2 separate regions of the Homo sapiens genome follow, and region 2 is linked to region 1. Evidence: fine-mapped expression QTL. A gene starts in region 1. The other region holds a variant in brackets. All regions are shown on one strand. Distances are between the middles of the regions.

Region 1 (5,326 bases):
AAGAACTGACTGACAGGATTCTGCAGGAATGGTGCCATCCAGAAGCAGAGGCAAGAGTTAGCATTCCTTGAAGTTCCCCAAAATATGTGGGGAACAGAGTCCCAGATCTTTTGGGAAGCTATGCAGCCTATGATGCTTAGAAATACAGATGCTTGGGGACAGGAAATGATGCTTCATCTCCTCGCAAACCCTCCTGCTGTTTCTATCTAAAAGACAGGCATAGAAATGAAAATGCTCATGTGAAAGCTGTCCTCAAAAAAATGAACCTATAGGGAAAATAGTTTACAAAGTACAAAGGCTAAACCTGTGAGAAAGTAAGATGCCCAAGACACTGTGAGAAGCCAAGTGTCAGGGCTCATTCCCCTCAGGCCTGTAGGAAGGAAACCAAGCAGCACTGGCTCCCATCTGCAATTTCTACAATGAGCAGCACTCTCCCAAAACTTAGCCCAACAGATAAAGCTGGTAACATTACCAGCTCCAAGTAATTCCTGCACCTGCAACTGTGCCTTACTCATTGTGTGTACAATAATGTTAGTTCTAACTTCCATCAGCAAGCCAGTGTGCAAACATCCCAGGAGACAGAGATTCAGTTTAAGAAAGCAGTAAGAAACTGCTGGACTACACCAGTAGTCAAGCCCCAAGAACAGACATTTCACTAAGTCTACTTGTTTTAGACAGGACATTCTACCCTGGAGACTTTGCATTAAATTTCCATGTCAAATAATTATTTATCACTCCCACCAAGCAGCAGAGTCCAGGATTATAACTATATTCCCAAGATAAAATGCTGAGAGAGAGCAGTCCCTCCTCTCTGCCAGAACTCACAACATTTCTTCTCTGACATTCGAAGATTTGGGGTTTTGGTTTCATAGCTGTTGTTGTTCTGTTCTGAGGAAGATGCCCCAGACATGGCAGCTCTTCAGATGTCTGAAACAGAGAAGTAGAATGTAAAAAAGGGAAGGGGAAGAAAGAAGACATAACTTAAAAAAAGTCAGTGCATTGGATCCGTGTGGTATAAGTAAAAACACCCTGGGCCAAGAGGCAGGTTCAGTCCTGTTTCTCCCAGTTAGCAGCTACTTCTCTAGCCCTCTGTTTCCTCACCTATAAAAAGAGTTGCACTAGAACCTTACATTTATCTTCTGACTTACGAGTCTACATTTACAGACGTTATCTTCTTCAGTCCTAACAATAATCTTGTAATTAGGCAGATTTTGCCACCATTATTTCTTCTCATTTTACAGATTGAAAATTTGAGATTCATCGAATTAAGTGTCCTGCTCAAGGTTTCATGACCTCAGATTCTAGTTTTAAGAATCTGGGCAGAGTAGTGGCAGCAGTTGGGGTGGGGTGGGTTATGTATAGACGAAGTACATTACCAGGAAATTAACTCCAATCTAACGGTAGGACTCAGTTTTGCAAACAGTGAGGCCGGGCACGGTGGCTCACTCCTGGAATTCCAACACTTGGGGAGGCTGAGGCGGGCGGATCAAGAGGTCAAGAGATAGAGACCATCCTGGCCAACATGGTGAAACCTCGTCTCTACTAAAAATACAAAAATTAGCCGGGCCTGGTGGTGCGCGCCTGTAGTCCCAGCTACTCGGGAGGCTGAGGCAGGAGAATCGCTTGAACCCGGGAGGCGGAGGTTGCAGTGAGCCAAGATCCCGCCACTGCACTCCAGCCTAGCGACAGAGCGAGACTCTGTCAAAAAAAAAAAAAAAAAAAATGAAAAATGAAAAAGAAAGAAAGAAAAGAAAAAAGTGAGGGACGTGGGAAAATCTCGAACATATTCCCTGAAGGAAAAACAGTAACTGGACCCCAAGACAGCCCTAGCACGTCGTCATTTCTCCTCTAGTGCATTCTCAAGCCCTGCTCCGCACCCTCTCCCTAGTTACCCCCGGGACTCAGTCTAAAGAACGCCGGAGCGCTGAGGTGGTAAATGACTTCCCCAAGGTCACCTCAGGAAGAGGGGTAAGCCCTGATTCAAACTGGAGTGGGAAAGTCCTGAGCTCATGCCCCCAATTCAGACAACAGGGGGCTGGTGAGGACGGAAGATCCTGCGCCTTCAAGAGCCTTACACGATTCCTTTACTGACCACACAAATCCTCCAACCCAAACACAGACTGTGGCTCCCGGTCCCAGAACGTCCGCGCTGCCTGCCATGCCTGGGGACCAGCACCTCTCCCCGCACTTCATCCGGGGGCACGCAGCCCCCACATCCCGCCCCGCTAGACCCTACCCGGGGCTGCGCAGCTGTGGCTCACCCTACGATCTCTCCTAAGATCCCTCCCTGCCTTGGCCCCGGCGCCTGCCCTGTAACGCGACCGAACCGAGCCGACAGCTTGTGGCCGGGACCGGCGCTACAGTCGCCGGCAAATCATGTGAGCCCGTCTGGCCCCGCCCCCTCGCGCGTAGGTCCTCACCTGGAGAGAATCATCCACCAATCGGGCGCCTGCAGGACCCAGGGGGCGGGGCAGGGTCGCAATCGCCTAACTGGCTCGGGAAGGCGGCTGGAAGTCGGAACCAGAGAGATCACAAGCTCCTGAGTTTCCCAGCGCCGAGGAGCCTGGTGGCACTGTTGCTTGGTAACTAATAGGGCTGGGGGCGGTGTTAATAAAAAGCTTGACTTTTTTCTGACTCTCGCGAGAGTAGACTATTCGGTAGGCGTCTTGAGAGCGGGTGTGCCGGGTGACGAGAAAATGCTGCAAAGATTAACGCTCTCATTCCTGAATCCCAGCAGAACCTCATTAGATCCATAAATGGGAACGTAAGCTTTAAAGATGTTTTTGCTAGAATAAACTACCACAACACTTGAGCTAATTATGCCTTAGGGTGTATACATACCCGGCTCCACAGGTCAGACGCTGTGACCTAAGAAAATCAACCACTCTCATCGTTGAACCAGAAGCTTCCCTGGACCCACCCATACACCCCATTGGAGTTTTTTTTGTTTTGGTTTGGTTTGGTTTTTGTTTTTTGAGATGGAGTTTTGCTCTTGTTGCCCAGGCTGGAGTGCAATGGCACGACCTTGGCACCGCAACTTTTGCCTCCCGTGTTCAAGCGATTCTCCTGCCTCCCAGTATCTAGAATTAAAGGCATGGACCACCACGCCCAGCTAATTTTGTATTTTTAGTAGAGACGGGGTTTCTCCATATTGATGAGGCTGGTCTCGAACTTCTGACCTCGGGTGATTCACCCGCCTCGGCCTCCCAAAGTGCTGGGATTACAGGTGTGAGCCACTGCGCCCGGCCACCCCGGTGGACTTCTAACCACTCCTACCTTCCCTCCTACCTACCCCCTAACCCAGGCTGTATCATCCGTTGCAGTCGTCTTGAAGAACCAAGGAGGAAAATTGCACCAGCAAAAAAAAATTGAGTCATGAAAGATGTGAAAAGATGGAAACATTACATATAATTTATTCAGAAGCAAAGTCTTTTACAGTGGAGGTGAGTTTGCACCAAGTGAACTACACTTTTCATAGTTGCCCCAGCGGGCCCGTTTGATGCTTGATAAACCCACTCTTGGCAAGTGGGACTTGCTGTCTGAATCCCGGCTGGATAAAGAACAATGAGTATGGATTTCTTGGAAAAGAGAGATATAAATTCAGGGATGTCTTTATTCCTCCTTCGCCTGGGAATTAAACTAATTCTTCCAAAAGTTCAAACAGTTATCTCCTCTTTAAGGCTTTTTACAACTCCCAGAGTGCTCTAGTTGCCCTCTCTATGTCTATACAACTCTGTCTTTATTCATTCAGCCAGTATTTGTTGAACACTTTTTATTTGCGAGGCACAGTCCTGGGTTCTAGGCATACACGTTTGAAAAGGTACAGATAATCTAGCATTATCACGTTGCTTTGAAATTCAGTGGCTGTGTGTCTCACACCCCACCCTGTCTCCCAACTGCAATGAATACTTGTTACAATGAAGGCAGGAATGAAGTCTTCATATTTGTATGCCCAGGAACTGAACTGGAATCTGATGACACGCGTTACACGACTCCTCCTTACACTGCCACCACCTGAATGAGGCAGCTGCCCTGGGCCCAGATGCTGACCTCATACTGTGCTTTCTGAAGTGGCAAATAGACGTTTTCAAGCACAGTCCCAGGGAGGCAGAAAGGCCAGTCTTTTGGCCCCTGGAACCCCAATGAGTCAATGTTTAATGCAGCCACGAGTCTAGTCACAAGTGTGATTGTTTTTGACTGGTCCTTTGACTCACTGACCATTCCTGGCATTCGTTTGCGTTGTGAACTATGATTCTGTTTCTCCTGGTGTAGTCTGGGTGTAGTGTGGAAGCCCCAATTTAATAATTTCCGACCTCACTAAGTGCAAGGTCACATTCCAATCTCCAGACCTTCATTCAGGAACTCCTTCCCCCGCCCTCTTTTCTTGAGCATATATGCTACCCACGCGGAGGGCACCTCACTCGCTCTATAGGTAGCAAGACCCGTTGTCCTTTAGGAATACGGAGGTTTACATCTTCGTTCTGAGGGTGGGGGAAAAATCAGTTGTCACTTTAAAAGAGTTCGCGCTTGCTAAGGTACTAAGGCAGAAGCCGCACCGAAGCGTCGCGATAACTGCAACCACCCGCAACTTCTCGCGATGTTTGGCCCCGCTAAAGGTCGCCATTTTGGAGTCCACCCGGCGCCTGGTTTCCCCGGCGGCGTCTCCCAACAGGCTGCCGGGACCAAAGCTGGCCCCGCGGGTGCCTGGCCTGTGGGCAGCCGGACCGACACGATGTGGCGGCTCCGCTGCAAGGCCAAGGACGGCACCCATGTTTTGCAGGGGCTGTCCAGCCGGACCCGGGTGCGGGAACTCCAGGGCCAAATTGCCGCCATCACCGGGATCGCCCCCGGCGGTCAGCGAATCCTCGTCGGATACCCTCCCGAGTGCCTGGATCTCAGCAATGGGGATACCATTCTGGAAGACTTGCCCATCCAATCTGGTAAGGAATCAGGGCTGGGGCCAGGGAAAGTCCCGGGAGGATGGAGAGGGGCGTGAGAGAGAACAAAACACCAGTCAAGGCAAGGTGGCTGTGAGTCGGCGGGGGGGCTTTGAGGCCAGGGGCGAGGATAGATCAAAGAACAGAGAATGCTGACGGGGGCCAGGGCAAGTGTCTAGCAACTCCTTGTCTTGACACAGGGTTGAAAGGGAACCCAAAGCCTTGAAGACCCCCTTCCCCATTCCGCTTTCTGGTCGGCTTTGAAACTATCCCATTTTGTTTTCCCTCGGCGTCCACAAAAATATAAAGTAGGGCCTATTTTCTCTGTCCTTATGTCTCTTTTTCCCTATATCACCGATGAGATCTCAAGGGTGCAGGATTTTTTTTTT
Region 2 (5,375 bases), 24 kb before region 1:
CATACATTTGACAATCACTGGGGAAGAGTTATCTGATTTGTCTGTAAGGAAAAGCGAATGACTAATGCACTGAGGCGCTGGTCCATGACCCCGCCACCCTCACTTTTATATGAGAGATCAGTGACCACAATAGTGACCAGTGGCCAAGAGGCAGGTATCAGGAGACTACTGCCCTCCAAGTCACAGCCACAGCTCTCTCAAGGACTGTATCATGGTGACAGAGCCCACAGAGGGGCGTGTCTCCTTCCACCTGTTCTGAAGCCAAAACACTCCCTGATCGGGCTGATTCTCAAGGAGCTTTCTTGACTTACTCACGTGATATAAATGGCACTCTACTTTTCTGTCTAGTCCACATTCCCAACCACCCAGGAGAACCACATCAGCCCCATCTTGATGCATGAGAGGCACATGCATCAAGTCAAAAGTACAGTAGCTACAAAAGGGAACTTAGAAGATGGGTACCCATTTTGGGGAGTCTTGCAGTCAGATCCTGTCCTGAAGGGCCTGGAACAAGAAAAACTTCTCTAAATGAAAAGGTTGCCACTGACACTGTTCTTCTATCAAGGCAGAGAAGATGTTTTAGGGACTGAATTTCTCAGAAGACCCTCCATTCACCTGGTGATTTGTCTCTTGCTTCCAATGTGGCAAATGGTAACTGCTAGCATAAGTATATTAGACTCTAGCCTGCTCGCCTGGAACAGTGGCAGAGACCAGCTCTTACCTTCTCACTTGAAAAGTAAATCTGAAGAAGTGCATTTGCACTTTGGGCAAAAAAGAGCCAGCAAAGGATGCAGACAGTCACAGGTAGGATGTTAAATGCCTATACAGAATGAGATTGACCAACTTGGACCAAACTCAGCACAGAGATGACAAAAAGTCACTGGTTCAGGTTGCTAAATGTTTTGAGGCACAGGGAAGTTAAATTTTTCAGTGTAACTGATATTCCCATTAGGCAGGAGGGGAGGAAATATGGTGACGTTTCTCCAGGCCTCGTTTTGGTGGCCCCCAAAGTCCAGTTCCCACTTAACTTCCTGTTCTAGCCTCTGTGAAGCTGACATCCCAAGCTTTTCAGTAGATCCCAGTCGTTTGGAGAGGTGAGGCCTGAACATCCACATCATTAGCAAGGCAACATGAGGGACGCTGCGGAGGGGCGTCTGCGCACAGCCAGTGTGGTCTCTGCTGCCTACGAGCCAGAGAGGAAGAGACACAAAGCTATTACAGCACTGCCAAGCAGCGAACATAAAAGTAGAACAGAATCCTTCCCCTACCTTCCCTCCTCCCTCAACCTCCCCATCCCCACATCCATACACATGCATGAACACACTGGTGTGCCTACACACACACCTTGACTACCCGAATGGCGTAGTCATGGTCTTCTTTCCCTGAGGAGCTGACCTCGTGACCATATTGGACCAGGCACTCCTTTCAGACCTGGACCATAAGCTACATACCCAAGATATGAAGCAGGAGCAGTCAGGATCCCTCTGGTAGAAGGAAATCGTGTAGGCTATGTCAGCCAAAAGACCATGCCAATAAAGTGACACTGTAGTCAGGGGCTACTTGGCTTCTGAGGAGGGTCCCTACTATTTTAGTTATACGAGTCCATTCTGAAACCAGTCATCAGAGCAGATCAACTTCTTCCCATTAACTGGCATCTAACATTTTACCTTGTGGGAAATTTTTCCCCTAGAACAGTGCTTCTCAAATGTTAAATGTGCATATGAATCACCTGGTCGTCCTAGTAAAATGAGGATTCTGACTCCGGAGGTCTGGGATGGGGCCTGGGATTCTGCATTTCTAATGAGCTTCTGGTCTTTGTTAAGGTAACAAGGAATAAGGCATGCGAATGGTAAAACAATCCCATCTGTATTTCCTGTCTCAAAAAAAATTAAATGCTGTTTTATACCCTTGACCATAATCTCTTTAGAAATGGGCAAATCACATTTTAGGAACAACAGTCCACCAAGTGCTAAAAAATCTCCAAAAGTTTTCTTTATAATACATAATATGAGTTACATGTTGCTAATGGGAATTACTGCACAGTGCAGTGAAATGTAATTGTTTCTTAATTCTTGCATAAGTGCCAACAGGAACACACAACTATTGAAGTTCATGTGCTTTCCATAATGTTCTTCCTATCTTCCCCAGAAGGTGGCAGAAGAGAGCCACGGCTACACCATGGTCTTCAATTACAGTGCGAACTTCTGTTGGCTTGTCTGAGTCTGAATCCTTGTGCAGCATGAGGCAAAGTTTTAGGGGTGGGGAAGGGATGGGAAACACAACTGAAAATACTAAACAAAAAACCCAGAAGCCTTCTGATAGGTTCAAGTTACTCAACAATTTTATTTACCCATTCTACACACACGCACACAAAAACACATTTCAAATACAGTTATGCACACTTTAAATGGATCTGAGTGGCATACTTTGTTATCAGTGTCACCCGATTAAATCAGAATGTTGCTAAAGACTTATGTTCCTATTTCAACAGAGCAGTGCCTAGGAAATCTACAGTAGAACTCTCTTCCTAGGCTTCCCAATCTGACCCATTCCCATTCAACCCAGAGGTGCTCAGCCCCACACCATCCCCCTTCCCAAAGGGCACCATGTATGATCAGCCCTTTGATTTTGCCATAGCAAAACCATCACCATACCAGCATAAGTTGATCTTCTTGTTAGGTCAATATAATAAAAAACGTACATAAGCAATTCAGATACAAAAACATTGCGTAGGTAAACATTGGTCACAGATATCCAGTGAAAGGCTTACTGGAAAAAATACTTTTGCCAACCCTTAAAATCAATTTTTAAATGCCAAATTTTCTTCTCATTTTTACTTACTAGATTAAGTGTAAAATCCAAATGCATGGCTGACTAAAAATAGCAGCCCTGTCCAATGGAATACAACATTTCAGAACAGGGTAAGCTGGGGACACAGAAGCTTCAGAAATGAACAGTGGAACTGAAGTCCTGCCCTAAAGCAGGGGACTGGATGAGATGACTTCAAGTAAAGGTAACAACTCCAGGCTCTGAACAGGCATTCCCTTAGCTGAGTTCACAAAATACCATAAAAGTGATGCATAACCTTTATCTTGTACAAAATAATGAGAATTTGGCCACTACTATATAAGAAATATCTATTTAAAATCATAGTGTACAGAACTCCCCTATAAAGAAAACA[C/T]GTGGAGTGCTTAATTCCTTCCTTTGTTAGACACATTTAATAGACAGAGAATTACCATAATGTACATACACTTCAATGGATACAATCAGAAAGCAGGCAGACTGTCAGCTTACAGACCCTAGACCGTTAGTCAGGCAACACCCAAATTTTACTATAGTCTATCTATCAGTCAGCACACAGACACTACTACAGTCTGTCAGTGACAAACAGATCCTACTAGAGTCAATCAGCACACAGATCCTCCTGGTCTACCAGTTGGTCAACATATAGACACTACTAGAGTCTGTCAGTCAGCACACAGACACTAAAGTCTGTCTGTCAGTCAGTCAGCACAGAGATCCAACTAGAGACAGTCTCCTGGACAGTATGGGTCTAAATTAAATCCCTGGACACAATTCTGACATCTGTGTCACCTTCAGGGAAAGTCGATTCTACCCCACCAGTGCTGCAACCCGACTCAGTTGTTACATATTTTCAATAAGTCAAAATACATAGAAAAGCTGGGTAAATCTATCAAATTTCTTAACAATGAACACAACATGGCTTCTGGGCTTGGCAAAGACAATGGAATGTGCATAAGATTACATAACCCAGATACAATTCTTCTGATTACTGGATACTTTTTCCCGTGCCCATTGGCCACTCCAACCACCAATGAGTTTCTGTCAATTAAGATCTCCTGCTCATAAAAAAAAAAAAAAAAGAAAAAAAAAGTAACATAGATGAATTTATTTCCAAACAGCTATATCATATGTTTCTTCAAAATGCCAGTGTCTCTGAAGACCAAATGTGGGTTGCAAAGAGGATTACCCAGATCCTCATATGGAATACTCACCCATTCAGTCTAGGGGTACAAATATATTGTGTCCTTAACTCCAACTTCTTTGGAAACAAACAAACAATAACAACAACAACGAAACACCAGAGGCAAAGATATAGGGCAGATCCCTAGCACAATGCAAGTTTTTAGAAGCTTTTCTTATTCTACTTTAAAACTCAATGTAAAAATCATCCCTTTACCAAAACAAAACAACAATACAGATAAGAGCTAAATTACAATTTAGGGATTAGGAGATAAGAAGAGAAGCAGGTTCTCTAAATCTGCTTTAGAATTCTCTTTCAAATCTGTCATAGTCTTGAAGCAAGAATAAGAAAACAGAATAATTTCCCTTTCCCCACTTTAGACAAGTAAATTTATAAAAAACTTTTTTAGAGGTGAGGTCTCACTATATTGCCCAGGCTGGTCTCAAGTGATTCTCCTGCCTCAGCCTCCCAAGTATCTGGGACTACAGGTATAAGCCACAGCAACCAGCTTATTCCAGTAGATTAAATGCTAATGTCTTTACCTATTTCTCACAAAACAAAACTTACAGCCTCAGCAGAGAGTACTTTTAAGTCCATTTTTATTTTGTAGGACTTGTGATAGACACAGTCATAGTAATGTATACAGATTACCAACATGCATTCAAGTAAGACCAGGAGAGAAAAGATGAGAAGTAGAGCTGAAACTTCTCTAAAATTTGGAGTAAGAGCTCTTTTCCATTCTACATTCTCCTGGCTTCTTCCTGCTAGACTTCTCTGAAGGGATCTTGCTTTAGAAACTAAAGGATGCTGAAGCCCTTGCTTGCCAAATTCCAATTTCTCATGTCCTATCTGAGGATAAGACCACCTCAGCTCCTCTTCTGGAGAAAGCGAACTAGCACAGGTGAGAGTGGGGAAATAACAGCAGGCTGAGAGCCAGAATGAACATCCCAGTGACCTGTCTCTAATGCTGGGTTAATGACAGGTTAACACAATGCTAGCTTGTTAGAGAAGTCCCCTTTTGCTAAGAGTGGGTACAGTGTTAATCCAAAGTCTGTGGATCAAAGTGCTCCCTCTTCTCATTCATTAGGTCTGAATTACTCTTACCTCACAGCAGAAGAAAAGACTGAATGCCCATTTGGGCTACAGATGCCACCATCCAAGCAAATGTGGACAATGCAACCTTGTAAAAGTGCCAAACACGCCTCCCCAACCATATCTCATTCTCACACTGGTGGTGGTGGGGGCATCCCCATCCCCCAACCCCTGTAGTCTCATAGCCATAGGACAACAGAAAAGTCAGGAGAAGCGATGTGATGGTTGAACACTTCTAGACTCAGACTGTTGCTATATTGCAAATGTCCATTTGTTATAAATTACATGTCCTGTCTCT

Which allele goes with the higher level. Alleles are on the strand shown, and positions count from the first base shown. SD is a standard deviation of normalised expression in the study named.
In carriers of allele C in region 2, the expression in left ventricle of the gene that starts at base 2,353 in region 1 tends to be lower than with T alone (small effect, 0.21 SD a copy in GTEx).

Evidence for each region.
Region 2: its variant is fine-mapped to the expression of PFKFB2 in left ventricle (GTEx, PIP above 0.99). The same link has a PIP of 0.9 or more in blood mononuclear cells.

Annotation. Positions count from the first base shown.
Region 1 is chr1:207,050,302-207,055,627 of GRCh38, reverse strand. PFKFB2 (6-phosphofructo-2-kinase/fructose-2,6-biphosphatase 2) reads right to left here and starts at 2,353. Exons shown (of 15, transcript NM_006212.2): 1 at 2,262-2,353; 2 at 826-927. The coding sequence starts at 910. YOD1 (YOD1 deubiquitinase) reads left to right here and starts at 4,420. Exons shown (of 2, transcript NM_018566.4): 1 at 4,420-4,940. The coding sequence starts at 4,598. RefSeq lists enhancers at 2,423-3,062, 4,286-4,856.
Region 2 is chr1:207,074,762-207,080,136 of GRCh38, reverse strand. It overlaps PFKFB2 (6-phosphofructo-2-kinase/fructose-2,6-biphosphatase 2), which reads right to left. Exons shown (of 15, transcript NM_006212.2): 15 at 2,320-5,375. Among named protein-coding and RNA genes, the nearest start is that of C4BPB, 11 kb to the left of the region's middle. The variant C/T (reference allele first, on the strand shown) is at 3,182.